Linked DNA regions of Homo sapiens. The protein of the gene in region 1 interacts with the protein of each later gene in a pairwise test. Each region holds a gene or a part of one and is shown in the gene's direction. Other genes may lie near its edges.

Region 1 (7,754 bases):
TTTTCTTTAAGTTGCTTTAATGACATTTTCTAAATTTTTAGTAAAACTGAAAATCTCATTTTTGATAGTAAAAGTAATGAATCTTTATACATTTTCACAGTGAAACACTTAACATTGCTTAACCATATTTTTCATTATGGTTGTAAAGTATATTACCATGTTATGTATGTATTTTGTTAATAATGTAACTTTGCCCTTTCTTTTCCTACTGTTGTTAATTTTATAATTTACAATTTATCTTTAAGAATCTACATCTTACTAACTTTAGAATTTTGTATAATGAACATATTATTCAGTGTTGTTAACGTAGTGAGGAAAAAACAATTGATATAATACCTCTATTAAAATAATTATTAAACTCTTACTATCTTTACCTACTTTAGTGTTTTCTTTGTAACATGAAATTGTTGTGCGTCATAGTGCATGAAACTTTGCCTGTCTCCACTTTATTTTATTCCATGGCTTTAAGAATAAAAGTGCGAACGGGTATGAGAGCAGGAGCACTAGCCTTTGTTTTCTTAATTACTTCGAAGAGGCAATAAGATTGTGGTCAGCTATTAGCGCAAAAGTGAATTCTAAACAGTAAAATCAGATCTAGCTTTTTCTTTGTGTTATAAAAGCTGAATATGTAAAAGAAGCATAATTATTATTTAAGGTGGCACAGATCAGATTCTGCCCCAAGAAATAAAATTTCAAGGTTCCAGGCACCGATTTCTGCACCGGAGTACACGTAAGATTTTATCTGCTCTGCTTTTGACAAGTAGTTGTTTTGATTTTGAAGGATTATGTTAATACTAATCTATTCACCAGGTAATTGACGTATGCTATCCTAATTATCTTCCTGTTTGGCTTTTTAGTACCTCTGTTTCAGGATTTCTCAAACTGTCATTATATGCTTTATTAAGGAAAAAAAAAAACTAGACCATCTAAGGAAGTTGTATATGATTTTGCATGTGTTGGTGAAAGGAACCTGAAATATAATATGCACATAAGGACCAAGCATCCTTTTTTGTTTATTTTGCTTTGGTTGGTATAATAGTTCTCAACAGATTCAACGTCACCTGGTGCAGTGATCCCAATTTTTTTTTTTTTAATTTCAGCGCACTGTCTTTTCTTCTTCTATCTTGTTTCTGAAGGAGAATGGAGCATAAGTGTGGTTTGTCATTTATTTTATAATCCCATAGATGAAAACGATGCTTGGAAGCACTTTTTTGCTATTATTAAACCCACTCTTTCCATGTGACAAAATAAGGTATGAGAATGACTCACTCATGGAGCACAACGTTTTGGTATATAATACAGGTATTCAATAGCTAATACACTTCTTAAGCAACAGAAGAAACTGCACCGAAAGCCAACAGTTTTCCTCTTATTCTGGTTCTATTATTATGCTTCCAGGAACTATTCAGTTGCCATAGATAGTGGCAATATATTAAAATTTCCTCTGTATTTACAATTCCAAGAGAAATTAATATATTTGTGTTTTAGTGAAAATTTTTTCTCTTTATTGTTTTACCCTATTTTTTGGAAGAGTGATACCTCACCGAAGAGGTTAAATTCACAGGTTGGGAAACATTATTCCTATGAAAACTCAAAGAGGTACTTGATTTTGAACTTACTTTTAATAATGATATAGTTATGCCAAGTAAATTTTTATTTAAATTTTAATTCTGACAATTGGCTGGTGTTTTTTTGGTTGTTTTGTTTTTTTCTTTTGAGACGGAGTCTCACTGTGACTTCCAGGCTGGAGTGCAATGGCGTGATCTCAGTTCACTGCAACCTCCACCTCCCGGGTTCAAGCGATTCTCCTGCCCCAGTCTCCCAAGTAGTTGAGACTGCAGGCACATGCCACCATGCCCGGCTAACTTTTGTATTTTTAGTAGAGACAGGGTTTCATCATATTGGCCAGGCTGGTCTTGAACTCCTGACCTCAAGTGCTCTGCCCACCTTGGCCTCCCAAAGTGCTGGGATTATAGGCATGAGCCACTGTGCCCAGCCCTGGTGTTGTTTATGTAACTCTTATGTGATAAGATTTCATGTAAGCATGAGGTAGAGCTATTACTAATGAAGCATGGTAAACATCAGTGCTTTCTTCAAAATTTTCTAATCTTTTCTTTTAAAAAGGTAATGTTGAGACTTTGCTATTTTATAATATCACTGGAATCAGTTTATCAAATTGCATTTTTATTAAATTACTAATATATATATAATGCCATTTACTTAATCTTCTCAGTGCCTTTGCAGTATGTTTACTTTTTTATTTTCCACAATAGTTCACTTGTCAAAACTACAGAAACAGGAAGTCATTAAACCTTGGTTGGGTCCATGAGTGGACGGAGATGAAAGCGCTGTTTCCCTCCACAGTTGATAGCTGTGGAGTACATTTTAGCTCCTGTCAAACTGATTGCTAAAATGGAGCTTATTCTTTTTTGTTTTTACATTTATTTGTAAAAAATACCAACAAGACTGCTTAAAGTTTTAAAAAGGAAAGACAATTGCTAAATTATTTATTGCCTCTAATTACTAATGTAGTTTTGGCAGTCTTAATGGTGATTTATTTCATCTGTGGATGGAATTAAATGTTACCAAACAAGGACATTTAATCTATACAACACTGGCAAAAGTAGTCATCAATTAAAAAAAAAAAATACTCCCGATTTCGTTTTTTGTTTATGGAGGATTGCCATACACATGAATGAAAAGCTAATTTTTTTACTAATCTTTGAAATGTTAATTTCTTTTGAGAAACAACTAGAACCTCAAGTTATGTTTTTGATGCTGGTTTTTGAGGAAATAAATATCTTTACTAGTATTGATAAAAACTTAATTTCATCTTTTATCTTTCTACATAAGTATTTTTCATGTTAAATTATAACTGAGGATCATGTAAGGTTTTTTCTCATTGTATTCCAATTTCATGTGATCGTAAAATCTTAGAATTGAGAGAGATCTTATAGATTGTTTTAGAATCCAACCTTCTGCATTCCATCTTAGGAACTCTTTGCAGTTAGTCTGAAGTAAGTTTATGTTTGACTATTTTATAAGATGACCTCCTCATTTCCTATATATGGACAGAAAATACTTGTACTTTTACAGTTTAAATAAACAATTCATTATTGTTTGTTTCTGGCAAAAGGATTTCTCTTAGAGGAAGTAACCCTTCTTTTATTTTAATTTTTAATGGGCCAACATCCATTAAGTTTTTTTCATGGATTTGAGTTTAGTTCATTCATACTGTTGCCCCAAGATTATAATTCTAAATATTGATTATTGTAGCCTTTAATATGTTAGTATATAGCTGGTTTATTTATCAGTACAGAATGATACACAAAGTGTTCAATTTAAACCCCCAAATGCAAAGGCAAAGTACGGATTTGTCCTTTAAAACTTGCTTGAGTGAATTTAGGCAGTTAACGCTGGCTGCTCTATCAAGAAGAGTGTAAGATGGATTGTTTGTTTATGTTGATGTAGAACTGACCATTTTTTAATTCTCACAAGCAGTAAGAGCTTCAGGTTTTCCCAGTGCTGCCTAAAGAGAATTCTGAGTGTAAGACTAACATATAGTTTTGTTTCACAAATAGGATGTTTTTTTTATTTGTTTGTTTGTTTGTTTATTTGTTTTTACCCTTCTGGAATGCCTGGTATGGGTTTTGCCAATTACCATGGATCAGTAGATAATGTTGGCTTATATGTATTCCCAGAGATTGCCAGTCTCTGGACGGACATTTAAGGTCACTGGTCATGAGACTGCATCTGAAAATTTGAGTTTATCTTGACACCAAATTTGACCTAAATCCTATAGTGAATCAGGCTTGATAGATAGTTGCTTTATACGTTAAGATTTGGCTTAGATCTTTTAAGTAATCTTTGAAAAACATGGTTTTCATATTATGGTACTTCTGTCTTTGGATCACCAAGCCATTCAAAGTTATTCATAAAGCTGTGGAGGAGATTTTGTTTTTTAATTTTCTGGGACTCTGGGAATAATATCAGATGACTATAACTATCCTGTCAAAAATTATCCCACTTATTTTGTAGTTTCCAAACAAATACATGCTGTTAGAAAAGATTACACAGTCAAAATAAGAGATTTTCTTTTTTCAATTGTTTACCATCTGCTTTGTTTTTATTCTTTCAGATGTAATACACATTGGATGACATTTAGCCTGATGTTAGTTTTGCCTTGACGTTGAGAATGTTGAGCCCTCATTCCACTGTCGTAGTCTGTATGTCAGTTAAATACCTCACAATAGATAATCATACTGTAATGTTAAACAGCTCCCTGAAAATACTGACACAGATCTTAAGAGTTTAGGTTAGAACCATAAGAATTGGTTCATTCAGCTTTCAGAAAGCACTGGCAGGGGAGTCAAATGAAATTGTGAATCTCAGCCCACACATGAAAGAACGATTAAGATTATTGTCACTAAGAAGCCCAGAAATGGTTATCAGCCATTGATAATTTAAGAAGTGTCCTTGCCTTCTTTTGCTGTATTCACAGATTTGGGAATATTTTTATGCTTTAGTCATTTAACTAGAGAACATATGCTTACTATAATTAAACAATCAAAATGCTTTGTTACCATTTTCTAAGACTAATTCATCCTTAAATCAGTGTCATTTATTCGTCATAAACTTCAACTTCATTGGCTTTACGAAGTGTTTGAAATGGTGTTTTTATGGAATCACACTTTTGATTCATGTGTTTAAACTTTGACATCTGTATGTGAGAATTCCCTGTCCTACTCTTCTAATCATCCATAAGTCGACAGCAGTGTTGTTTCTTAGAAGTTGGTTTATTGAATTGGAATATAAACACGAAGTAAAGAATGCTGCTTCTCCATGGGAGGGGTTGAACACATTCATTGCTGTAGTTCTCTTCCCTCTCTACAGTTCTTTCATATTCAGTTTATTTATTTTGATGTTTAGGGTTACAAAGTTATAAGTGCTGCCTTGTAGCTAGTTTTTGGAAACAATTCAAAATATTTATTCTTTGACTGTTTTCTTGTGGGGAGAGTGAAGGGTGGGAAAGGGGCAAGAACACTAAGAAAATTAAGATAAAGACTGCTCAGCTGAAGTTTTATAAAAATCTGACTTGAGTGTTTTTCTCTTCATTTGCTGTGCTTGTGTAAACAGTGTGACACCATCGCCACAACAGGCTCGGGTCTGTCCTCCCCATATGTTACCTGAAGATGGAGCTAATCTTTCCTCTGCTCGTGGCATTTTGTCGCTTATCCAGTCTTCTACTCGTAGGGCATACCAGCAGATCTTGGATGTGCTGGATGAAAATCGCAGGTGATTGGCCATCCGTGACTCTTGACAGCTTTATTGCATATTTTTTGGCCTCTTGTTTAGTGGACTGTGGTGTCTTTCTTTTCTGTTTTTACCTTCTAGCCTCTTTCTAAGATGCAATGATTTGAAACAGCTTGCTTTACTTTCTTTTAATTTGAAATTATTGTCCAAAATTCACATTTCACAAGATTACATTAGCTTTCCTTCTGTCAGGGAGAGTATACATAGAAAGTGTAGTGATTTTTTTCAAAGGCTTTTCTAGCCTACTCTAAGTACTTGATTCCACTTAGGGATATGCCAAGGGGCCCCGTCCCATTGGATTGAGTGTTAGACTGAAGTTTACTAGTCCTCGTTAGTCTTTTGATTTAATCATTTATGCTGCTGATATGATTGGATTAATAAAGCAAATCTGAGGAGGTGATGTCAGCGCAGCTGCCAGGACACTTTTTTCCTTTCCTCTCAGCTACGGATTTCTAGGCTTGTTTTGAAAATTCCAGGTGCTATCATCTTTTTGATAATACTGATATTTTTCAGTGTTGATAATTTATCTCACTTTTGAACATCTCCAGGTAAAATCATCAGTAGTATACTTAGACTTATTCATACAAATAATTTTTTTGCAGTTATCTCAAGTACTTTTTGTCCTTGCTTTATTACTACATAATGTTTTAAAGGAAATTCAGGGAGCTTTTTTGGCATAGTGTGGGAAAGATAGAGTCAATTTCATTTCAACTCTGAACATTTATCTAGTGGCTTCTGGTAGTCAGGGTTTGAATTTTCATGATTATTTAATTGTTACTTTTTGCATTTTGAAGAATTTCACAATAAATTAAGCTATCCCTTCTAATAAATCCTGTTTCTTACCTTAGGAACGAATATGACTTCTGACTTGCACTGGACAAACTTTTTCTTGTTGAGTGCTTGTAGTCCTCACACAGGCCCTGGGTATGTCACCATACTTCGTAAGCACCTGTCCATGCTACTTATCATTGTTGAATCCAGGGCCTTTCTGAGCCTTCCCAGAGTTGACCTAGTGCTATGCATTTGGGCCCAAGGACTGAAAGCTGCACTAAGAAGAGCTTAAAAAGAAAGCTCATGGCATGAGGGTGTGGGGAGGGGAATTATATATACATGTATATGTATAGATCTGTTTTGTTTGTTTTTCCCCAAGGGTTTAGACTCCCTTTTATGCTTTTTGAAGCTTCAAAGCCATTCTTGGACTATTGGGAAGCTGTAAGAAGCAGCAAGGTTCAGAACAAAAAGCATGGATTCAGGGAGTCAGTTAGAATTAACCCGGATCCACCCCACTACATAGCTGCATGATGGCCTTGAACAAATTGCTTAGCTTCTTTTGGCCTCACTTTTCTCATCTGTTGAGAAATAGAGAGGAAGGGTAATAATATCTAGCTTTGTGAATTCTTGTGAGGATCTTCTCCCCTCCCCCACCTTTAATTATAATATAGGGATAATGGCCTCCAATTCTTTATTTAGTATGGTAGGAGATCTTTCAAACGATATTGCATATAAAGTAGCTGGCACTTAAGAGCTAATATTTACAAGGGCCTGTTTTCTCTTCCCTCCTTAAAACAGATTTATTGTCCATCAGCTAACTTGTTTAACTTTTTAATTACAATAAGTCCTTAGTGGAGACCAGATTATTAGGTGCGAGTATATCATATCAAATGCTATTACATTTAAAATATCTGAATGAGAGAGATATTTCCAAATCTTGTATAAAAAGTAATAATAGCTAGATGGCAGAGTCACAGTACATTAAAATTATATGTCCCAAAAAGTAAAAAAAGAAAAAAAATTATTTGTCCCAATTCCCCCTCACCAGCATATACACAGTTCATTGCAATAATGTGGAACTTATAAAAATATGGATTTTTTCCTCCATAATGGAAAAAAAATTGTGCCTCAGAGTCAAATGTATAAAATCAAAAATCGTATTAGTATAAACTTTGTATTTTTTTAATAATGAAAAATATTTTTGGACTTTCAGTGAAATTTTATTTCACTTTTTTACATTGTGATGAATTGATAACTCTAAAATCCCTTTTCTGGGAAGGAATTCTCTTTTCTCATTCATTTCAGTAAGTTTTTAAAAGTTCATGAAGGAGTTATATTAATAATGCTTTTCTCCTAGATCTGTAGCATTAGTTGTTACCTTGGAGCTTGGAGGGTTAGATTCTCATCAGTCTTATTGACGCTTTCAGTATTGAAAGGATTTTTTAAAGTTGTATTCACTTAGGATCTCAGTGTTGAGCAAGATTTTATCAGAATTTTAAGTGCCAAATCAGTTTTTATTTCCTTTGTGAGAAGTATCTGGCATGACTTTTCAGATATAAGAAATAGGAATGTGAAATTTGGATAATGTTCTACTTGCATGATTATAAAATAATACTGCTTATAAAATTTTAAGTGCTTCTATGTTCCTTGCTCTGTAGATCATTTTTTCT
Region 2 (8,081 bases), on another chromosome or scaffold:
CCCATGACAGATTGGACCCAGCAAAAGAATCAAGAAAATGCGGAGATCTGGCCTGCCACAGGCAGTGCCTCTTTATTTCTTTCCCACTAGTGCTGGGCTGGCTCCATGGAATCCCACCAAGTGCAGCAGACAGAGGAGTAATCTGTTGGAATTTTTGTCTCTGGTGTCAGAGCAAGGATTCATCATTATCTCCAGAAGAGCTGAATTAATTAACCATCATAACAAAGCAGGGTCAGCTGCATCCAAATTCTCAGGACTGCATAAACCCTAGAAGACACAACTTCCTTTGAACTTATGAATATGCCCAAAAGGCAAACAGAGCATACACTAAAAAGGGCTTAATCACTGACCGAGTCTCCTCATTTCATCTTCCTTTCTTTCTGACCTATTTTGGCCTTTTCTTTTTTTAATTTTTTCTTCTTTTCTCATTAATTTTCATCTGCTTTTCATTTTCTAATGAAGTAAAGGCATCTAAAACTACTGGCTCAGGAAGGCCCCATCTAATCGACCATAGGCAGTGATCCCTGGGACTCTGGGAAGAAAGTTGGCTTTAATTTAAAGCAGGGTTTCCTTCTGCTTTAAACTAAAGCACATAGATATGGGGCACATAGTTACGAGAAGAAGGATGGAGTGAGCGCATGGACTGTGAGTTGACTCCAGGGAGAGATTTGGGTCCTTTGTTGGTAACCTCAGACTTCCCAGCTCTGTTACAAAAAGCAAGAATAAAGTGCTGTCTATTGGATCTAGAAAAAAAAATCAGGAATGGAGTGCATGAGCTTTGTGCTCTATTCCTTTGCATTAGCAGACACGTCTAACTTGTCTCTGAAAGGGAATATTAACCCGGGTGTGGTGGCGCACATCTGTAGTCCCAGCTACTCGGGAGGCTGAGGCGGGAGGATCACTTGAGCCCAGGAGTTTGAGGCTGCTGTGAGCTGTGATTGTGCCACTACACTCCAGCCTGGGTGACAGAGTGAGACCTTGTCTCTAAAAAAGGGGGGAGTAGGGGAATATTAGAACATGACTGCGTGGGGGTTGTGTGTGTTTGTGTTTTAACTATCACAAGCAGCATGTCCCAAGCCATAACCTTTTCTGTCCAGTAGGTGTCAGCTACGCACAGCCTTTCTCTTTCTAAATCCATATTTGTAAGAAAACGGCCTTTCATCCATAATTTTCCCTAGTTAAAGGGATCAATTTCTTCTGATCTGAAGCACGCAAAACAGCTGAAACAGTGGCTCCGATATTGGAAACAGAATTGTACTACGTACTTGGGATATGGCCACACTGAGGACTGTGCGAAGGGGGTGACAAATGTTGGGGGGGCCCAGGTGAAGTCCTGTGGGTCTCACTGAGCAGATAAGTGTTAGGATCAAGGTGAGTCTCTAAAAGGCACAGTTAAGACACCAAAGCAAAAACACAGAGTTTCCCTCAGGTGAAAGAAATTGAGGCTTTGACCAGTAGCTATAGCATCCTGAAAAAGTGCTCAGTGTAAACTATCAATCTCCCATTTGCCCTCAAATAGACTGTCTTGTTTTTTACCTCAGGTAAAATATTTCTTTAAGCCTCAGGTTTCTAATTTTTAAAATCTTTAAGATAACTGCCTCGTCTGCCCAAGATACTACATGAGGAGGAAAAAAATTGAGATATTGTTCAGAAAACCATTTGTGGGCTATAAAGCACTATTTAAACGTAGAGAATAGAATAAAAATATAAAGGCAAATGCAGAATAGAGTAATCCCAGCACTTTGGGAGGCCGAGGCGGGTGGATCACAAGGTTAGGAGTTCAAGACGAGCCTAACCAACAGGGTGAAACCCCGTCTCTACTAAAAACACAAAAATTAGCCAGGCATGGTGGCAGGTGCCTGTAATCCCAGCTACTTAGGAGGCTGAGGCAGGAGAATCACTTGAACCTAGGAGCCAGAGGTTGCAGTGAGCCGAGAGCCGAGATCGCACCACTGCAGTCCGGCCAGAGCAGCAGAGCGAGACTCCTTCTCAAAAAAAAAAAAAATGCTCAAAATTTAATAAACATTAGTTTGTAATTTTTTACAGATTTTTGTCAACATATTACACCAAGGCTTTTCTTTCTCTCTTGTGTTCAATGTTAGTCACCTGGAATTTTGACACACTTAAGAGTTTATGTCACAAAAAGATTCCAACCTACAGAGAGGCACTTAATATAAATAATGCTCCCTTTGAAAGTGGGGAGATTCCTTTCCTAGCTTTGTTTGTTTGTTTGTTTTGGTTTGGTTTTTTTAAAGACAGGGTCTCACTTTGCCACCCAGGCTGGAGTGCAGTGGTGCGATCTTGGCTCATTGCAGCCTCAACCTCCATGGCTCACACGATCCTCCCACCTCAGCCTCCTGAGTAGCTGGGATTACAGGCGTGAGCCACCACACCCAGCTAATTTTTGTATTTTTTGTAGAGATGGGGTTTCACCACATTGCCCAGTCTGGTCTTGAACTCCTGAGTTCAAGCACTCCACCTGCTTCGGCCTCCCAAAGTGCTGGAATTACAGGCATGAGCCACCGTGCCCAGCCCCTTTCCTAGATATTACATCGCACCAGTAATCAATGGTAATAAGCCACTTATAAATTCCAAGTGCTAAAGAAATAGAAATACTAATCTTCAGCAACTCTTCCTTTCCAACGTGTGCACCTAGTACCGCTGTATTCCAAGAACGTATTTGATCCCATAACCCCCTTAGCTTCTTAGTTCATAATTTGAGAGGGCTAAAGCTTACCATATCGTTATCAGTTTGCACTGGTTTTAGCAAGAGACCTCAAATTCATCACATTCATGTTTTATCCCACATTAAGTCTGCATCATATAAATTAGAACTACCAAATATTACTGAAAGAACTCACGTTTAAGAAGCAGAAACATTATTTGTTTTATATGGTGATGTTGAAATCGGAGCAGAAGTCTTCAAATCTGAATGTATACAAATGAATCTATCAAATTTTTCCTCAGTGCTTTCTAAGGTTGTCAGGAAAGGCTAGAGGCAAATTCGACATTTTTTCATTTCCCATGACTCATTCCCTCCCATGGAGTTTCGTGCTATATATTCCCTGCCTTGTCTGGTTTTTTTTGTTGTTGTTTGTTGTTTTTTTTTTGCTGAGTCTTTCAATTTGCTGTGTCTTGAACTAGCAAAAGGAGGAGAGGAAGTTCCTCCCAACCTTTGAAACCTCTTAATACTTGCTGAGTGATCAAGGGGGCAGATGACTGCTGATTGGACTTTACCCCATTTGAAAAAGCTTTTGCTATGATAGCTCAACAAACCTCATTTTAAGGAATTAAGTATTTATTTTCCTTAAAACCCAAAATCTTTTGGAACATTTTCCAGAAAGTGAGGCCAAATTTTTGTAGTTAGGGGTCAGTTTGGGGGAACTTAATTTTTTAGGCCCACTTTAAAATTAAATAATTTTGCATAATATATTTAATAAGGCTAAAAATAACTTTATTTTAGACTTATAGTGTTGTCCACTATATTGCTTCATGCTGTTTTTTCGAAATAATTTACAATTATAAATAGACATTGTTGCTCTCACCTTAAGGCAGCAGTTTCTGAGTGAAATTCTTCAAGAAAGTGGAGGCATCATTTCGATATGGTAATAAGCTAGTTATTCTAACATCAACAAGTATGTTTCATGATCAGCGATATACTGATAATTCCCCATGTGTGCTTTTCAAATAGTTTATAAATGCAAAAATATTAGAAGTTGCAGGATCAGGGTTTGAGTCATTTTTTTTCATGTTTCAGCCAGTCCTAAATAAGAGCTGTGAACAACAAGGCTACCTGGTGATTTTGTTTTTTATCTTTTTGTATGTGCATGTGGTTTTTCTGGCTTTTTGTTTTGTTTTGTTTTTGAGACAGGGTCTTGCTCTACCTCCCAGGCTGGAGTGCAGTGGCGTCATCATAGCTCACTGCAGCCTTGACCTCCTGAGCTCAAGCAATCCTCCAGCCTCAGCCTCCTGAGTAGCTAAGACTACAGGCCTGCACCACTGCACCCGGCTAATTTTAAAATTTTTAGTAGACGGGGTCTCGCTCTGTTGCACAGGCTGGTCTCAGACTCCTGGGCTCACGTGATCCTCCCCTGTCAGCCTCCCAAAGCGCTGGGATTACAGGCGTGAGCCACCGCGCCTGGCGATTTTGTTTCCTCTGTACTCTTCGTAGCTCACAATTACGCTAAAAGAACCTTTTTCCCATTGTTAATTCCTTCCATTTCCCTCCCCCACCCGTCGATTCCCCCTATTTTTAGGAAACTCGAAGATGATGTCCTTTCAACGTTCTCTCCTGTATTCTCAAATACAGGATCCAGTCCTAAATATTTTTTAATACATTGGCTAGTTTATTTCTGATGGCATTAAAAGTATCGGCACAACTGTTCCCTGATTTATAAAGCTCACAGATGCTGTATGACCTGTAACATTATACTAGCTAATGAGCTCTCCCGGAACAGTTGACGTGGAAGGAGTTTACTTCCACTTGGTTGCAAGGAGAAAGATGGAGAAAGCGAGAGACGATTGCAAAAAGAAATAACTTAGTCCATTTTCTCAGTGCTGTTTGGGGGCTTTGTGCTAATACTTAAATTGCAGAGGAGGGAGGAGACGGGACTGAGGATGGAGGGGAGCAGAGGAGGCAGGGGCGGAGCCTCGGCGGGCGAATAAAACCCCTCGCTAAAGAGAAGCACGTTAGTGTGTGGAGAAGCCACTCTCCCGAAACCAGAGGGATGGGGCCGGCTGTGCAGTAGAACGGGGATCGAAAAGAGGAAAACAAGGGCACGAAGACCAGCGAGAAAGAAGAGGACACCTGGGAAAGGCGGAAGCAGAAGACGGGGAAGGGAAAAGAAACCCAAAGCAGGTGGAAACCAGATCTAGAGCAACACCGTCAGGTTCACAGTTTGTTTTTCTAGAAGAGAAGAAAGTACCTGAGGATTGCTCTTTTTTCCTACCGTTAATGAAAACTACTTTTGTCTTCATCATAAAAGAAAAAACTAAGGGGAGGTAAAGGCAGTCTCCTGTTTTATTAGGGGGAGAGGTGAAGGGAAATCCAGGCTCACTTTCTGAATAAGCCACTGCCTGGTGCACAGAGCAGAACCATCCTGGTTTCTGAAGACACATCCCTTTCAGCAGAATTCCAGCCGGAGTCGCTGGCACAGTTCTATTTTTATATTTAAATGTATGTCTCCCCTGGCCTTTTTTTTTTTTTTTTTTTTTAGCAACACTTTTCTTGTTTGTAAACGCGAGTGACCAGAAAGTGTGAATGCGGAGTAGGAATATTTTTCGTGTTCTCTTTTATCTGCTTGCCTTTTTTAGAGAGTAGCAGTGGTTCCTATTTCGGAAAAGGACGTTCTAATTCAAAGCTCTCTCCCAATATATTTACACGAATACGCATTTAGAAAGGGAGGCAGCTTTTGAGGTTGCAATCCTACTGAGAAGGATGGAAGAAGGAGCCAGGCACCGAAACAACACCGAAAAGAAACACCCAGGTGGGGGCGAGTCGGACGCCAGCCCCGAGGCTGGTTCCGGAGGGGGCGGAGTAGCCCTGAAGAAAGAGATCGGATTGGTCAGTGCCTGTGGTATCATCGTAGGTGAGTTCCATTCCTTCCCGCGGACCCCTCCTCTCCCCTCTGGTGGTCCTCCTGTGAGATCTTAACCCTTCGAAAGCATTATTGTTCTTCCTATTCCTTAGAAAAGGATTGTCAGTCACCTGAGCTGTAACTCACCTCCACTGGTCAAGTTTGAGAGGCATAGGAAATACATCATACATCTCTTCCTCCAAACCAGGCAAAGATTCTGCCCAGTGTTCATAGAATGGAGCAAATCGTGGTCAGAAACCCGGCTGATGATTAGCATTGCCTGGGAACTCCTTAAAAATACAGGTCCTGGTCTCGACACTTGGAGGTTCTAGTTCAATAGGTTTAAGGAGGGACTGAGGGACCTGAACAAGTTTGTATGCAGCTATTATTCCCAGGCTGGGGATGGGCTTTTAAGGTATATTTGGTAGCTATTTTGCAGTTTTATGTTAAATGAAACTATGGGATAGGTATTAAAAATAGCAAGAGCAATGCCCTGCCTTTTTATTTTAGCGTTTTCCACCTTATGCAGCACTTTTACTGTGTGAAGTAGCTGTGACAGGGCTGTTATTCCCATTTCACAGATGGGGAAGTTATGGAAGAAAAGAGGGGACAGATTGTGCCTCTCGGTAAGTGGAGAGTTTGCAGTTTCTCCAGTTGCCTGGTGGGGTCCACCTGTTTCTTAACAGCCACGGAGGACCCGGTGAAGCTCTCAGAGGGAATCAGGAGTAACTAGAATGTGTAGAATATGGAGTTGAGGAGGAACTGATGGGTAAAATATGTGTCCTAGCTGGGAGGTGCTGAAGGTGGGGAACCTGGGTGGCCCCAAGAGTGCCAGTGCAGGCCACTCAAACCCCCTGAATGTACTTTGCAGGGCAGGAGTCCCAAATACAGCTTCGTCTCTAGACAGCACATCCTCTTTCCAGAGAAGCCTTGGAGATGGATGGCAGGCAATAGCTCACTATTCCTGCCCTCACTTCAGAGTGAGAGATTGTTCTGCTATCTTTGGTAGGGGGCTTTACTTTCTTCCCAGAAAAAGGAGTGCAGGACGGTCAGGCATAGATATGCTTCTTTGTCATCTCTCCAGAGTTCCTTTATGAGAGCTCGTTGTGTCCTGGTGCCCCTGAACCAGTTTCTCTGGCTGACGCCATGTTCTATGCAATAGCTCAGAGATATTTTGGCATCTGAGCAATAGTGACACTGGAGAGCACTCTTGAAATCAAATAAAATCAGTGCAGTATTCAGATAATCCTCTTCACCTCTACACCCAGAACTTCAGTGACCAAGCTCTCTTCAGTCTCTAAAATGAAATCCCATCCCCCCCCCACCCCCACCAACTCCTCCTACACCCTGGAATCCTATTTTATGTGATTCCCTGACTCTGGGAAGTTTTCCAGGCCATCTACAGTTATAAGAAAGATAATGTTATAAGAAAAATTGTAGTCATGATCTGAATCTCTCTTTACTTTTTCTCATGACATTTTTTTTGCCTCTCCTTTACTTTATCTCAATTGTTCAAAAGAAATGAGAACAGCCAAGTATTCAGTATGTATAGCACATGCCAGTTTAAGGTCTATAAATAGCCCGTTCACCAATTTGACTGACAGAATTAAGCATTTTCCCCCTCTAGGAAGGTTCTGACTTATACACAGATGCGCACGCCCACAGGCACACAAGCACAATTAAACATCCTTCCTGCCTCAGCCTGGCTCGCCCTTCCCAATATAGGTTCAGGTATTCTTTTTTTTTGTTCAGACGGAGTCTCGCTCTGTGGCCCAGGCTGGAGTGCAGTGGCGCGATCTCGGCTCACTGCAAGCTCCGCCTCCCGGGTTCACGCCATTCTCCTGCCTCAGCCTCCCGAGTAGCTGGGACTACAGGCGCCCACCACCACGCCCTGCTAATTTTTTTTGTATTTTTAGTAGAGACGGGGTTTCACCGTGTTAACCAGGATGGTCTCGATCTCCAGGTTCAGGTATTCAAGGGTAGAGGGTATTTTCCTATATACTGATGTTTTTGTCTCTTCCTTTAACATCTTTTTCTAAGATTATGAAGAAATGGGAGTGTTCAGGTATAATAAGTACAATTTCTGTGGGTATATGTTACTACTGATTTGTCCACAACCTTATGGATGGTACTTCAATGGGAGAATAATCTCAAAGCTCCCCATGGTGGCATTACAGTAACTAGAATGGCAATTCTGGTGTTCTGTGATGAAAAGAGATTCCAAATATGTGATTTCAGAGAAATTGGGATATTTTTGCAAAACATGAGAATCCTTGTAGAGTTAATAGGCACTATTCTACCCCAACTTAAGCTAGAAACAAATTTCCCCTTTAAGATGATAACAGGGGACAAAATCCATTCTGCTTCCCCTCCCGAGTTGCTGTTGAGTCACAGATGTGCTGAGGAACTGCCCTTTCCTCTTCTGGAGAAGTTTCTCAGTGGATGATCGTGATTCAAGTGTTTTCAAGACCAAATGCAAAAATAGAAATGGCATTTTCTGTGTAG
Region 3 (7,754 bases), on another chromosome or scaffold:
CACATAGTAGATGCTCAGCAAATCAACTCCCATCTCTCATCTCTACTGCTCCCACCAGATACACGCAGGCAACAGGGGCTCTGGGAGGACGACGCTGTTACACAGAGCACTTAGATGGCCTGTCCTAGCCTCCGTTTCCAACTCCTATGGGAGACAGGTTGATCATAGTCTAAGTAATCTAGTCCCCTCAGGGCCCAAAGCCCTGTCTCTAGTGGCCCTGCTGATACCCCAACCCCAGGGTCTTTGCCCCTGCTGCCTCCTCACTGCACCCACCCCAGGGCCTTTGCCCCTGCTGCCTCCTCACCGCACCCACCCCAGGGCCTTTGCCCCTGCTGCCTCCTCACCGCACCCACCCCAGGGCCTTTGCCCCTGCTGCCTCCTCACCGCACCCACCCCAGGGCCTTTGCCCCTGCTGCCTCCTCACCGCACCCACCCCAGGGCCTTTGCCCCTGCTGCCTCCTCACCGCACCCACCCCAGGGCCTTTGCCCCTGCTGCCTCCTCACCGCACCCACCCCAGGGCCTTTGCCCCTGCTGCCTCCTCACCGCACCCACCCCAGGGCCTTTGCCCCTGCTATCCCTCCGTGTGCAGCACTCTTCTTCCAGACAGCCACGTGGCCTCTCCCGCCTCACTCAAAGGTCTGCTCAAATGTCACCTTCTCAGAGAGGCCCTCCTTACCACCCTTCTAAAGCAGCTCCCCCATCACCATTCTCGGCACCACTCCCCAGACACGCCTTGTTTTATTTTCCCTCGTAACATTAAAAATTTTTTTTTATTGTGGCAAAATATACATTACAGAGAACTTACTACTTTAACTCCTCCCCGCTCCTTTTTTTTTTTTTTTTTTTTGAGACGGAGTCTCGCTCTGTCGCCCAGGCTGGAGTGCAATGGCGTGATCTCAGCTCACTGCAGCCTCCACCTCCCAGGTTCAAGCTGTTCTCCCGCCTTGGCCTCCCAAGTAGCTGGGACTACAGACATGCACCACCATGCCCGGCTAATTTTGTATTTTTCGTAGAGACAGCGTTTGTCCAGGTTGGTCAGGCTGGTCTCGAACTCCTGACCTCAGGTGATCCGCCAGCCTCGGCCTCCCAAAGTGCTGGGATTACAACGCCTGGGTGGTGTGGGCCACTGTACTTTAACCCTTTTTAAGTGGACAGTCAGTGGCATTGAGTAAATTCAGTGTTGTGCGACCCTCCCCACCATGCACCTCCAGAACTTTTTCATCTTCCCAAACTGCAACTCTGCACCCATGAAACATTCACTCCCCATCCCCCTCCCCCAAGCCCCTGGCATCTTCCATTCTGCTTTTGACCCGATGACAAATCTTCTGTGAATGGGACTCCTCTAGGGACCCCATGTAGGTGGAATCTTGCAGTCTGTGTTCTTTTGTGCCTTGCCTAGTTCATAGGCATAATTCCCTCTGGGATCCCCCTGCTGTAGCATGTATCATAGTTTCCCTCCTGTTTTGGGAGAGTAATGTGCATTGTGTGACGGGCCACCTTTTGTTGATCCATCCATCCCTCGATGGGCACATGGGTTGCCTCTACCTTTTGACTAAGGTGAAGGATGCTGCTGGGAACATGGGTGTGTGTACGTATCTGTTCGAGTCCCTGTTTTCTGCGCCTTGGGATATGTACTCAGAAGCTCGGAGCATTTTAAACATTCATTTGTTTGCGTGTTGTCAGCCTTCCTGAGTAGAACACAGGGGCTCCAGGGAGGAACTGCTTCTATTTCATGCACTGCTGTGTGCCTTGTGCCTCGGAAGCTGCCTGGCTCCGTGCATACTTGTGGAGGGGTTCATGGAAGTCACCATGAAACCCTCCACCTTAGCGACACAGCAGGGGACCTGGGTCCTGTAAGCTCCTCGAGGTGGCCGGGCCAGCCCGGGCATCCTCACTCCTGCAGCTCTGGTGCCTGGCCACCAGCCTCTGCCGGCCGGTCATTTCCACCACCTGAGCCATCCGTCCTCCTTTGATTAAGTCTCATTTTGCCATGAAAAGAAAAGGAGGTGACAGTTGGCTTGTGGGGGAAGGTCATTCATTCCAGAAAGGAAATTGGATGGCGGCATCTCCATCGTCCGCACCCGGCCCCTGCTCCCGACAAACTCGCTCTCCTGCCCGCTGCCCGCCTGCCCGTCCCCCGCTGTGGGCAGGAAAGCCAGTGTCAGGCGAGACAGCCCACACCCAGCCTCTCGTGGCTCTCATTGAACAGGCAGCTCTGGACGGATCAATGCAAGCCAGACGATGACCAGTTGTGGCCAGCAGTCCTTGAACGTGCTCGCCGTCCTCTTCTCATTGCTGTTTTCTGCAGGTAAAACCTCCGTGGATGCTGGGGGCGGGGGCGGCACGTGGGGGTGTGGGCTCTTCCTGAGATTCGTGCTGGCCCATCTGGGGTTCTGGGGGCACACAGAGGCTTGCCTTTTGTCCTCCACCTTACTGGCACCCCTCTGGTGAGCAGCTGATGTTGGTTGCTGTGTGGTTGGTCTCTGTCTGTCTCTGTCTCTCTGTCTCTATCTCTACTGTGCACCGCAGCCCTGGGACTTCCCATGGGAGCTCAGCTGGCTGCCAGGACCCTCGGGAGAAGCCCTGACTCACATTCTCTCCTTTGCCCCTGCGAGACAAGGTTAGGCAGTGTCCTAGTCATCCCATTTTATAGATGAGGAAACTGAGGCTTGGAGAGGGACCTGACTTGCCTAGGACAAGGCAGTTAGCGGATTCTAGCCCGACCAGCCTCCTGGGCTGTCCCTGGGATCCCAGTTGAGGTCGCAGGTGGGCTCCTGCTCTCCCAGTTACAAGGATGAGCACAAACTAAGTCCTCTGCTCCTCCCAGCTAGAGCTGAGAGCCCAAGTTCAAGGGCAGCCCTGCTCCCCAGCCAGGGCCTGCTCCCAGCAAGGAGCCCCCTCTGGCTCTCTGGCTTCCTCTCCCTCTGTCTTTCTGTGTCTCTGGGTCTCTGTCTCTCTGTCTTTCTGTCTGTCTCTGTCTCTCTCTGTGTGTCTGTGTCTGTCTCTGTATCTCTATCTCTCTCTGTCTCTGTCTCTCTCTGTTTCTGTCTCTCTGTCTCTCTGTCTCTGTCTCTCTGTCTGTCTCTCTGTGTCTGTCTCTGTCTGTCTTTCTGTGTCTCTGTGTCTGTCTCTGTCTCTCTGTCTCTTTCTGTGTCTCTGTGTCTGTCTCTGTCTCTCTGTTTCTGTCCTCTGCCTCTTTGTCTTTGTCTCTGTCTATGTCTCTGTGTCTGTCTCTGTCTGTCTCTCTGTGTCTCTGTGTCTGTCTCTGTTTCTGTCTCTGTCTCTGTCTCTCTGTCTCTGTCTTTCTGTGTCTCTGTGTCTGTCTCTGTCTCTCTGTCTCTGTCTATCTCTCTGTGTCTCTGTCTCTGTCTATGTCTGCCTCTGTCTTTTTCTATCTCTGTCTTTGTGTTTCTGTCTCTGTCTCTGTCTTTCTCTGACTCTGTCTTTCTGTCTCTGTCTCCATCTCTCTGTCTCTGTCTCTGTGTCTCTCTGTACCTCCTCATGCCCGCATGCTCTAACAGGGTCACTGACACTGGCCTGGTGGTTTTCAGCCCCTGCCCCTTTGCTGGGGGCAGCTCAGAGGGAGGCTATGAGGATGTCTGGGGGTGCTTGGCAGGGCTCCCCGGACAGCAAAGCCAAAGCCACGCCCAGGCCAGGGGTCTGGGGGCTACCCAGCTGCTCTCCCCACCCCAGATGCTTCCCATGCTTTGGCTCACCTGGTCCTCACCATCCCTGGAGGACGGACCCACTCAGCCCATTTTACAAATGAGGAAGGTGAGACACTCAGAAGGAAAGCGGCCTGCCCGAGGTCACCCCTTCAGGGGAGGGGCCAGCCAGTGAATCAGGGCCATCCAGATGCAGGAGTTACGTGGAGCTGTGCACACAGGGGTGCGTTCATGGTTGAGGCTTCGGGGCCCGAAATGCGGCTCTCTCCTTTGCGTCCCTGCTCTGCTGGGGCCTCCTAACAGAGTGTCCCTCGGCCTGGAGTCACGCCATGCCCCAGAGCAGAAGCCCACGGATGCTGCCCTTTACTGCCCTTTACAGCCTCTAGTGCTCGTAGGGCCCCTAGTGCACACACAGCCTCTTTCTCTAGGTGGGGGCTGCGCCTTGCTGTTTACAAAACGCTCCTGGGAGCCCCCAGCCCGCCTTGGAGACCATGAGTCTTTCATCAGTGAGGGGAGGAGGCCAGAGAGGTCACGATGGCCCAGGCAGCCTCATGCCAGGACTCCCACCCGGTTGTCCCGGCTCCCAGCCCAGGGCTCTGTTGGCTCCGGGAAGGCAGCCGGGGAGGCTTCATCGTTACCAAATGGCCAAAGCCCATGGCGCTGACCGCCCAGTGGTGGCCGGGTGAGCTGGGTGCTGGTAATGGGCAGGACCCTTCCACATCCCCCAACCTCGCCGGGCCTGCCCTCCCCGGCCCCCCATCTCTGCATATCAGGCTCCTCCCAGTCCCTTGAGGCCCAGCTCAAAGGCTGCCTCCCCATGCTGCCCTACCGCTCTGTCCCTTCCCTCCCTGAGTCCTGTGGTAGCCTCACGGGCTGGTCCCAGGGCCTAAGCTAGACTTTCTGCCCAGCAGCGTGAGTGTGCCTGGTTCCTCCCCAGCTGCCCACGCACTGAGCGTGAGCAGGGCCTCCTCACTGACCTGGGCAGTGACCCAGACAGTGACCGGAACTGGCTAGCTGCCTCTGCCCCTTGCCGCTAGGCCAGTGGGCCCCAAACCCAAGCCCATCAGCATCCCCTGGAGGGCTTGCCAGGACAGACGGCGGGGCCTACCCCGGAGCTTCTGATTCAGAAGCCCAGTGGCCTGAGAATCTGCATTTCTGACAAGCCCTCCGGGGATGCCCTCGAGGCCGATCAGGGGCCACACTTTGGGAACTGCTGCTCTGAGCCACAGTTTTCTCCCCTGTACGATGGGAATAAATGAGATGGGGTGAGACAGCTGTCTACTTGGGGCTCTCTAATAACCTCTACATCCCCAGAGGGGGTATTCTTCTTTCTTAAGGTTGAGGAAGAGAAGGGGGCCTGGAGAGCTCCCCTGGTTCCCCAAAAGCTGAGACCTTTCTCTCGCAGTGGTCATGCCCATCCCCACAGAAGAGGGTGCTGTCTGTGGGGGAAGGGGTGTGGAATTTCATGCCCCCCGCCGGAGGCAGCCTCAGCACCCCAGCACATGAAGGCCGCCTGCCCATCTTCCAGCCCAGCCCAGCCCAGCTGGGACTCCCCTGCAGCAGCCCCGGGTGGGTAGGTGGGGAGCTGTGTGGGCTGCAGTCTAATAACCTCTCAGCAGACACAGAGCTTTCAACGAGCTGGAGGAACTCCTGCAAAGCCACTGCCTTTGTGGTTAAAGGAATGTATTCAGCCAGCGAAGCCCCTTTTCAGTGATACAAATTAGATACAGCGATCTCTTTTATGAAGATACTAATTAAGCCTGAGAGAGCGGGCTTTAGGTTTTTTCCATTGTTATATTTGTTCAGACTTTCAGTCCTGTTTATCACCATCGGCACGACTCGTAAATACCATCCTGGGTTTGCAGTAGCATTGGTGGCTGAATAGGGGCCTCCGCCCCTGAGCAGAGTGGTGGGAGGGTTCCAGGCCAAGGCAGAGCTACCACCGTGAGGTGGGGGTGACTGAGGCAGGCCCTTGGGGACCTTGGGGCCTAGGGTACTAGTTTAGTAGAAACCAAGGAACGAAGGGTCTGCTGTTTTTGACCCAAGAGGTACCCAAGAGGTCCTTGCACCTATGCCAGCCACCACCCGGGCCAGCCTGGGCTGAGCAGCAGGTCCACCACTGCCCACCTGGGAACAAAGAGCTAGTGATACAAGACTGGAGAGGGCCCCAAACTTTGAATCCAGGCCTGAGTTCCATTCCTGTCCCTCCAACACTTATCAGCTCGGGCAAGTCACCTTAGGTCTCTGAGCCTCAGTTTCTCCATCTGTAAAGTGGGATCTCAGACTTGCTTGGCTGTGTGAGTTAAATGAGATGGGTCTGTGAAGCATACAGTAGGTGCTCAGTTAAGGCTGATTTCCTAATTGAGTGACTGCTGCATGTCAAGCATGTTCACCGAAGCAGGAGAGCCAGCCCTGCCCTCCAGGACCAGCCAGTCTGGGTGACACAGAGAATGTAACCAGGGCTGGGAGGCTCGGGGTAATGGGAACCCAGAGGTGAGGCTCACAGTGGACCACAAAGGCATCCAGGGGAGGGAAGAAGCAGGCAGGACCTGAGAAGAGGCCGGCCAGTCCCCCTGCCTCTTGGCACCCGTGGACTGGTGAGGGACCCCTCTGAGCCTGGTGACTCTGTCTTCCAGTCTTGTCTGCACATTTCCGGGTCTGTGAACCATACACAGACCACAAAGGCCGCTACCACTTTGGCTTCCACTGCCCCCGGCTCTCGGACAACAAGACCTTCATCCTCTGTTGTCACCATAACAACACGGTCTTCAAATACTGCTGCAACGAGACGGAGTTCCAGGCGGTGATGCAGGCGAACCTCACGGCCAGCTCCGAGGGTTACATGCACAAGTGAGTGCCACTCTGGGGGTGCAACCCCACTGCCTCGGGCCCCAGGCAAGGGGCCTGCCTCCCAAAATCGCGTCCCCTAGGGAGGCGGTTGGGTAACCGCTATAAGGTTGGGTGGGCCTGGAAGGAGTCTGGGAGAGTCTTTGGATGACCAGGGTTTTCGGCCCATTGTGCCTTCTAAGTTTCAGCTTTCTCATCTGAGAAATGGACACAGAGGCCAGGCGCGGTAGCTCACACCTGTAATCCTAGCACTTTGGGAGAATGAGGTGGGTGGATCACCTGAGGTCAGGAGTTCGAGACCAGCCTAGCCAACATGGTGAAACCCCATCTCTACTAAAAATACAAAAATTAGCAGGATGTGGTGGCAGGTGCCTGTAATCCCAGCTACTCAGGAGGCTGAGGCAGGAGAATCACTTGAACCCAGGAGGCAGAGGGTTGCAGTGAGCAGAGATGGCGCCATTGCACTCCAGCCTGGGTGACAAGAGTGAAACTCCGTCTCAAAAAAGAAAAGAAAAGAGGGAGGGAGGGAGGGAGGGACACAGAATACTCACTTTGCAGGGTTACCATAGAAGCTAAGTGAGGTTAAGGATGTGGAAAGCTTTCAGGCGTAGAAGGCGCCTGGGCCTGTAATCCACCGGGTTCCTTCATTCATTCTTCATTCATTTAACAAATACTGATTGACACCATTGACCCAGAGATTAATCCCATGCAGTTCTTTTCCTTAAGGTGATTAAAATACATTGGGATCAGGGCCTGATGGAGGGGACCACAGGTGTGGAGAAAGAGAGAGTTTGCTGTTAGAAAAGCAATGGGAACACGCTAAGTAGAGTCATGGAGTTTCAAAACAGCATGCGTTTCTCTATTATGAGTGAAGCTGGCCGTCTTTTCACATGCCTGAGAGACATTTGTATTTCTTTTACCGTGAGCTAGCTGTTTATGTCTTCTGTCATTTTTCTATTGAAGTTTTTGTTTTTTTCTTATTTACTTATGGGTGCTTTTTATATATGAAGGAAATATGATGAGTTGCAAACATCTTCCCATCTTCTCCTTGTTGAATGTTTCCATACAAATGTTTCCTCTGTGACTTTGACTTTATACTGCTTTTTCCTCATGCTTAATTTTTGTTATGTAATCACATTTTATCATTTTTTTTTTCTTTTATGGTTTCTGGCTTTTGCATCATACTAAGAAAGGTGTTTCCTGCTCTGAGGTCATTAAAAATACCATGTTTTCTCCTAATT
Region 4 (8,140 bases), about 130 Mb from region 1:
TTAGCATAGGCTTTTAAAAATCTTTAACCACTTACCACTGATCTTTTACACTCAAAAAATGCGTACTTCAAAGAGTTGCAGTATCCTTCCTTCAAACACTGCCGAGGTGATTTTCCTTCCTATGACAGACACATAAAACAATATAAACACCTTGGAAATTTTCTCACAAAGTACAAAATAATTGTCCTTCTGAAAATAGTCCTTTTTAAAAGTGTTAAAGGAGGAAAATAGAAAGTTATGTAGGAAATAGTTCTTAATTCATTTGGGCTATTGGTGCCTAAAGAATGAAAAAAAAATTGTAAAGTAACTTGGGAACTTTAAGGACACTGTTGAATTCTTGAAAACACTGGTTTCTATTGGATACTTTTCCTTAAACTGTTTATATAAAAATCTAGAAAGGGTTATCTTCATTTCCTTATGGGTGAAATGTGTGAACTGGGTACCCTAAAATCAGAATATTTTTAGTGTTGGCACGAAACACTTCACAAAGATATTAACAAGGCAGGCTGGAATACTACTTAAATAGAAACATGTGGCCCATTCATGCACCAGAAAAAATATAACCCAAAGCTCATCTGCTCTGCATAATCAGGGATTTTCCCTCAAGCAGATTTTGACTCTACAGCCGCATCACTGCAGCCACTCCCCAGAACCTTTATGTTGCAAGTGCCAGGCACGCTCTGCCAGTTTTTCCTATGAAAAGCTACAGGGTACTATGTCTGTGGTATTCCTGTTCCCCAGGAGTCTTGGCCACCTTCCAGTCTGTATGTCTGCCTGGGTCCTAGATATCAAATGTCATCTACCTCAGTGACTCTCAAAAGTGGATAAGAGTAGCAGGTTTCCTTCCTCTCCAAACTCTGCAATTCTGCTGGTGGGATGTGTTGCCCACATGAACGACGTGGAGGCAGACAAAAGAAGACTAACCATATAAAAGGTTATAACTATAGTTTATAAGCTGATGCCTCTTCAAACTGTATCTAAGATGCTACCTTTTTCAAAAGCTTTCAACCTATATTGTCAACTGCCTGGGGTAAAGATCCATCTAGATACACTAAAGCTAAGAGACAGTCATTCGTTATCCACTCCACCCCAAATAACAGACTGCTAGCTGTCTGCTCTTCCTTTTTATCCAGCATATGGCTGGGTGAGATCTCCTAGACGCCCTTGCATCTAGCTGTGGTCCTGTGACTAAGTTCTAGCCACTGGAATGTGTGGGAAACAGGTGTAGAACTTCTGGGTTGGTCCTTAAAGAGGCTTGCCCCTTTCCTCACTTCACTCCATAAGGTTGCCGGGCCTGATGATGTGGAAGCAAACCAGTCTTGGACCATGAATATGAGAGTAACACCCTACTTGCTATATTTTCCTATTTTCACAGCACAGAGTCACAAGATCAACAGTGTCTGCGTTCATGGAAGACTGAGGGAAATGACTAGGCCCTGATTATAGGCACAAGGACAAAAGAGAAAGTTCTCTATCTCGTTTAAGCCACTATTATTCTGGGTCTCTGTAACATGCACTTGAATCTATATTCTAACTAATACACTCCCAAGCTTTTTTGCCTTCTGAGGTCAAGATCAGTCAGTGCTCTCAAACATGGCTGTGCCCAAAACCAACCTAGGAAAGAAACTTTTAACTTATTGGGGGTAGGGTGAGGGCAGCAGTGGAATCTGTACTTTTAAAAAGCCACACCACTTCTAGGTGATTCTGATGAAGAGTCAGTGGATCTGGAAGCTGTTAGTGGAGACGAAGATACCCTATGATGAGTGAAGTTCCTCTGGCAGAGTTTCATTGTCCTGATCATCCAGGAGTCATTAAATCCTAAGAAGTCTCTTCAAGAGATGCCTTTTGAATCTGCTTTTTCCCTGCTTTCCTCCAGCCCCACTGGAATTTACATCCTTACCATTACCCTGAGTTTCTCTGAGGCCCTCTAACTCCTTGACAGTCTCCCAAAGCAGCACCTAGAACTAAATACATGTTTATGTTGAATTCCTCCCTAGAGCGAGGTGCTGCAGGTTTCAGGTGGGTTAAAGACTGGCAAGAAGAGACTACAGCACCAACCTGCCATAGGATCAGATTAACCTTTTTATTCAAGAACTTAAGAAATCAAAAATTTCCATCATAATTAAGGTTGCCACACAGAGCAAGCACAGACCTCAGCAGAGCTTTCCTTGGTCTTTCAGAGTCCCCAGTGAGGAGCAGTGGGCAGTAGCTGCCAACAGATTGTAGGAGATTGTTCTGGACCTGCAAACCTCCTCACTATTGCCCTTTTACAATCCAGCTGAAGTCAGCATTCAGAATGAATTTAACACAAACTGTATACGAACTTCCATCTAAAGAACTGCTTATAAGCATCACGTTTTCTGGCTGACCAAACTGAGCACTGGTAAGGCCACATATTCAATGGCGGGAAAAGCAAAGTCTGTACCAGCTGTCCCAACCATAATCTCTGCCTACAGCATTCTAGCCAAACAGCTCCGCTTTCTATACTGGAGAGACCATGTTCCATTCATCAGTATTTGTTCCCTGAACTGGAGCCTGGCGCTCCGTACATGTTTGCTGTATCAACCGCTGCAGAAAGCCAGCTTGGAATTCTCTGTGCTGCTGCTATTGTCCTCCACTTGGAGTTTCTTTCCTCAGTCCTACTCAGTGTACTTTCTTCCCTTGACTACTCATCAACATGGCCTTCCGATGCTGAACGTCTGGATAAAATCCAGTCTCCTCACTCTGACACACATACAGGCCTTCACACCTGGCTGCAACCTTCCCCTCAGGCCTTCTGTCGCATTCCCCTATGGCAGGACACTAGCTCCTCTGCGCCCTCCCACATCTCCCTGCCTCTGCACTTGCTGTTCTTTCAGATTTTCCCCACAACCACAACAGTTCCCACTCCTTTACTTGATAAACTACTACTCAACTTTTAAGACTCAGCTCAAATGTCATCTCAGAAGATTCCAAATTCTGAAGCAAAATCAGACGCTCTCCCTTGGGCTAACGCATTTTTCTCCTCAAGATCTAGTCATTAAACACATGTTTAATAAATGCTTACAGTCTTATGGCAGGAATTTAGACCCTTAGATGTCTATTTCTCCCATGACACCAAGCTTACATGGGTAGTGACTGTTACTGATTCATCTTCGTTATCACCAGTGTCAGGTACCATGCCTGCCACTTAAGAGGCATTTACCAGGAGCTGGCTGAACGGCAGCACCAGTGAGTAAGGGGCAGAAGGGACACAGCCCTGGACAGGGGAGCCTGAAAACAACGGTACTTCAGTTTCCTCATTTATATAAGGAAGTTGGGCGAGATAATCTCTTAAATTTATAATAACTCAAGTTTTACTAGACATTGGGAGGCGAGAATGGCTGACTGCTAAAATCAGTGAACCAAACAAATTGTGACTCGGTAGAAACACTGGTACAGTCTTACAGTGGATGTCCATTTGGGGGTAATCTTTTCTCTGAAATAACAGCAACTTTCTGAAACTACATCCCCCAATGCAAAGACAATTGCACACAATTGAATGCCCTCTCGTCGGGCCTCTGCAATTGGAAAAGGCACTTGTGCTTTACTTGAGCTCTAATCCAGAACTCAGGTCCACTGTGAACCTCACTACATGTTTCAGTGCATTCCAAGAGGGTGCTGAGGAGACCTGTGTCTGTAGCCGGGGAGTGAAGGAAGAGTGTAGGGGAAGCAAGATACGAAATCGTGAAAATATGGAGTTGCCTTATTTTTACAACTTAACATCCAAGAATGCAGAGAACTGTAACTCAGAAACAAATTCACATCAACACAAGTCAAACTGAGCACACATTGTCACAACTGAACAGGCAGGAGACACTACTGGCCAGGGCAGTGTACCAGGTTTACGCAACTCTCTGGAATCATTAATTCTACAGATTATCATTTCTAGGCAGGCAAGAAACCTGGCTTATTCTCCTTTATGTCTCCAAAGCCTAGTAGAGTGCTAGCATTCAATAAAGGCTTCGTGAACTGAAATGGGTTAACCTTTACAAAAACCCGACAGGGTGCGTTTATCGTTATCTCCGATTTAACCCCACAGGGAACTGGGGCTCCGACAGCTCAGTGGATCTGCGCACGTTCAGTGAGCCCGAGCTGTGACCTACGCCCGGGATGGTTAACTCCAACCGCCGCCGCGGGCGACCCGCTGCCCTCCGCCGAGCCAGGCCTGCCTGGGACAGGGGTCGTCACCACCGGGAGCGCCCGGCCGCGCTACCTGGACCACACAGTCCGACTGCAGCAGACACGCGCCCAGGTCCTCCTTCAGGCCCGCGCACGCGCCGCCCTGCGGCTTGTCCTCATAATACTTAGGCATGACGGCGCTTCCCCTCCGATGCGGACGCGACTTTCTCCCACCGCAACACTTGCAACCGGGTCGGGAGCGAGCGAGGCCCCAGTCTCAGGGGACCGGAAGCCAGCGGCAACAACTTCCGGCGGGCCGCGGCGGTAGGGCCGAGGACTACGGGGGCCGAGAGGTGGCGCGTCCGCGGCGGAAGTCGGTTCCCGTGACGCGGCGCGCCCCAAGGGCCGGCTCCGTTGAGGGAAGGGAAGCCCGCCCGGTGGCGGCTGGGGTCGGCTGCTGGGAGGAGGTGGTGGGCTGGTTCGGACGTGGGTCGAGGCTGTAGCAGGACTCCAGGTGAGGCCTGAGGACCACTCTGCCCTCCCGCGGCCCGGGCTCGCGCCGGGGGCCATTTAATCCCGACAGCTTGCGGCCTGACGTCGCTGCGGCCTGGCAGTGACCATGTCGGCGTCCGGCCCCTCGGCCGGCGATAGAGTTGCGGCTAAAATGAAAGGACGCCCAGTTACATTTGCATCGTAGATAAAGAAAGAGCATTTAGTATAAGCATGTCCGAAATGTTGCGTGGGATGTAGGCATACTAAAACCTTATTCGTGGCCTGTCTGAAATCCAAATGGAGCTGGGTATTCTGTGTTTTTATTTGCTAAATCTGGCAGCCGTACCCGCGGCCCCGGGCAGGGAGGGAGCAGCTGGGCTCGGCCAGACCCTGCCGGCGTCTGGGGGGCCTGCGAAGTGGAGGGGAGACGGGCAGCCGGGCAGTGGCCGGCGTTCCCCGGAGCTCGGACCGGTTGGATTGGACTCCGACGCTACCGCTCCCTCTGCTGAACTATTCCGGATGTAAAACACTAGGGATCGGAGTTTTTCTTGGTTTTTTAATCTCATTCTAGTGACCGAGAAGCTTGCTGGCAGTGCGCTGATGGATCTGTGTGAATAGGCCATTTATTTGACCTCTTCAGTAACACTGTTCTAACCGGCTGAAACTGCTTTCTTAGGCATTTTCTTAAAAGCTTGGTGGTTAAGAGCACGGAATTTCGAGTCAGATTTCCAATCTTGGCTCTATCACTATCCTCGGAGTCATGGGGCAGTCACATCATCCCTGTCTCTGTAATGGTAGCTGCCCCTGGATAAGTGTTATTAGGTGATTCAGAAGGGTGGGCTGTTGCCCTTGCCTGAGGTTGCAGTCTGCGGTTCCCAAGCCCCAAGACCCGCCTCAGAACTAACTGCATTTGCTTTTGACTCCTGGCCTTTCTCTAGGGTTGGGAAGAACATGGAAAGTGACCTCCCTGCCAAATAACTCAGAAGAGGAGTGTCGGTAGCCAAATGTTTCTTCAGAATACGTGTAAAAGAAATGTTTTTCTTCCATCTAGGAAGATGTTACCGAGTACTTCAGTGAATTCCTTAGTGCAGGGGAACGGAGTCTTGAATTCCAGGGATGCGGCAAGACACACAGCCGGAGCGAAACGCTACAAATATCTGAGAAGGCTTTTCCGCTTTCGGCAAATGGACTTTGAATTTGCTGCCTGGCAGATGCTCTACCTGTTCACATCCCCACAGAGAGTTTACAGAAATTTTCATTATCGAAAACAGACGAAGGACCAGTGGGCCAGAGATGACCCTGCTTTCTTGGTCCTGTTAAGTATCTGGCTCTGTGGTAAGTGTGTTTATCTGAGATAGAATTGAACGCTGAGTGTTTCTGATTAGATTTTTTGTTATAAATGTGTTGTGGGTCAGAATCTGGAAATATTGGAAACTATTTCTCCTTTTTACTGAAGCCTCAAAAAATCTCACAGGAAAGAAAGTTGTAGTCTTGGTTCTACAGGTCCCAAGCAGATGCCAGAGTAAACTGTTACCCTAGGACATTGAAAAGCAGGGGACAAGATTCACTCCATATCTTTTTAAGTACTTGAATCGGTACCCAAATGTCAGCTGACTGTGAATAGGAATATGAAACTGGAAATTGCATTTCACAGGCAAATCCACAGTGAGAATTGTAAAGGTATTGATGGGAACCTGAGAAACTGAAGTTCTCCAATTCCATAATGCAAGGGTCTCATTTACCTGTAGGGTGTTGAAGTGGGTAAGATATTGAAGTTTATAGGGTGTTTTGCACCTTAACTGGACTTAAACTATGTTAGTGCCTTCTCTACACTGGCGTTCTAAATACTGAGGCCACCGTGGTGAATCAGCCTGGCAAGGGCCCACCTCAGGAAACTTCAACTCTCTCAGTGGCCACGCTGTGTCCCAAGGTAGTGTTCACACATCTTGGGAGTTTTGTTTAAAGACCTGTCTCTCCCACTAGCCTGGGCATCTGGAGGGCAAGGGATGTGTCCTGTATTTCCAGAACCTAGCAGAGTCCCTAAATGAATCTTGTGAATCTTTCTTTCAGTGTCCACTATAGGATTTGGCTTTGTGCTGGACATGGGATTCTTTGAGACAATAAAGCTTCTCCTTTGGGTTGTACTCATAGATTGTGTAGGCGTTGGTCTTCTGATAGCAACTTTAATGTGGTAAGTACCATAACTTTGGTTTTTCAGATACTGCTGTAGCATCTCCATTTGTTTGCTTCAGAGGTACAATAGCAGCAGATGGAAATTGAAACCCAGGTAGAGTTACTAAATGATCAATTTTGACTGCCAAGATTATTACAATTTTCCCTCCTGTGTTGCCACCTATATCAGAAAATACTATAAAGGCTGGTTTATAATATTGTCAAATGTAGCAAATAATTGAAATAATTATGTTTTGAACCCAAAATATCTGAGATCGGTCTCAATTTAGAAAGTTTAGTTTGCCAAAGTTAAGGACATGCCTGTGACACAGCCTTAGGAGGTCCTGATGACATGTGCCCAAGGTGGTCGGGGCACAGCTTGCTCTTATACATTTTAGGGAGACTTGAGACATCAGTCAATATGTGTAAAATGTACATTGTTTTAATCCAGAAAGTGGGGAAAGGCAGGTTACAGTTAGATAAGAGACAAATGGTTGCATTCTTTTGAGTCTTTGATCTGCCTTTCACTGAATACACAATTTACTTGTGAGAGGCAGGTACAGGAATAGTCATTTATGCCTTAATCTGGCTCAGTGAGTCTGCATTTTTACATAAACAATGGGGCAGAGGAAGCAATCAGATAAACACTTGTCTCAGGTGAGTAGAAGGAGGACTTTCTGTCCCACACCTGTAAAGATAAGCTATCTTAGGAATAAAATAGGAGGCAAGTTTGCCTGACACAGTTACCAGCTTGACTTTTCCCTTTGGCTTAGTGATTTTGGGGTCCCGAGATTTATTTTCTGCATACTAACAAAATGCCTGGTTTTGCAAAAATATTACAGATTTAGCCAGTTCTGCTTAAGTTGTCTGGATGATAGCATGGTTTTCTGCATTTGTCAATAGAGACCACTTCTTGATATTCATTGTGTTTAAATCCATTTAGATCTAAAGGGTTATTTTGTGGAGTCTTACTTTGAATCTTTGCATTAAATGAAGTATACTTGAAAAAGAAGGATTTTTTTTTTAAACTTCTCATGCCTTCCTACTGAGAATAAAATTCTCTCTCTTTCTCTCATACACACACACCCTCCGCCCCCCCCGCCCCCCCACCGCCACACACACACACGGGCTTTATCAGAAGGGTTCTCAGTCTGACTTTGGTTGATTTAGCAACAGCAGTGTACTGAGGATAAATCTGGTGTTTGGTAAAGTCCTCCTGTGTGGTTGGCATGCTGGATGAAGGGCAGGGGATGTGGCTAGCGATCTCAGTAGAGGACCAGTGGTTGGGTAGACATGGTGGTCATTGTGGAGAACATTTTAGTTGCAGAGAGACCTG

The links.
Region 2: the proteins of MFF (region 1) and SLC7A8 interact in binary tests that used the Homo sapiens proteins (3 or more experiments, as listed by UniProt).
Region 3: the proteins of MFF (region 1) and SHISAL1 interact in binary tests that used the Homo sapiens proteins (3 or more experiments, as listed by UniProt).
Region 4: the proteins of MFF (region 1) and UNC50 interact in binary tests that used the Homo sapiens proteins (3 or more experiments, as listed by UniProt).

The regions. Positions count from the first base shown.
Region 1 is NC_000002.12:227,342,090-227,349,843, forward strand, and holds part of MFF (mitochondrial fission factor), read left to right. Parts: intron 1-655; coding exon of another isoform or gene 656-730; intron 731-5,136; coding exon 5,137-5,295; intron 5,296-7,754. UniProt on the Homo sapiens protein: Plays a role in mitochondrial and peroxisomal fission. Promotes the recruitment and association of the fission mediator dynamin-related protein 1 (DNM1L) to the mitochondrial surface.
Region 2 is NC_000014.9:23,180,271-23,188,351, reverse strand, and holds the start of SLC7A8 (large neutral amino acids transporter small subunit 2), read left to right. Parts: upstream 1-4,691; 5' UTR 4,692-5,437; coding exon 5,438-5,588; intron 5,589-8,081. UniProt on the Homo sapiens protein: Associates with SLC3A2 to form a functional heterodimeric complex that translocates small and large neutral amino acids with broad specificity and a stoichiometry of 1:1.
Region 3 is NC_000022.11:44,295,434-44,303,187, reverse strand, and holds part of SHISAL1 (protein shisa-like-1 precursor), read left to right. Parts: intron 1-2,210; 5' UTR 2,211-2,242; coding exon 2,243-2,309; intron 2,310-6,302; coding exon 6,303-6,516; intron 6,517-7,754.
Region 4 is NC_000002.12:98,604,073-98,612,212, forward strand, and holds the start of UNC50 (protein unc-50 homolog), read left to right. Parts: upstream 1-4,516; 5' UTR 4,517-4,654; intron 4,655-5,570; exon of another isoform or gene 5,571-5,636; coding exon of another isoform or gene 5,637-5,687; coding exon 5,688-5,967; intron 5,968-6,702; coding exon 6,703-6,823; intron 6,824-8,140. Other genes in the region: COA5 (cytochrome c oxidase assembly factor 5), read right to left, coding at 36-119, 4,235-4,333. UniProt on the Homo sapiens protein: Involved in the cell surface expression of neuronal nicotinic receptors. Binds RNA.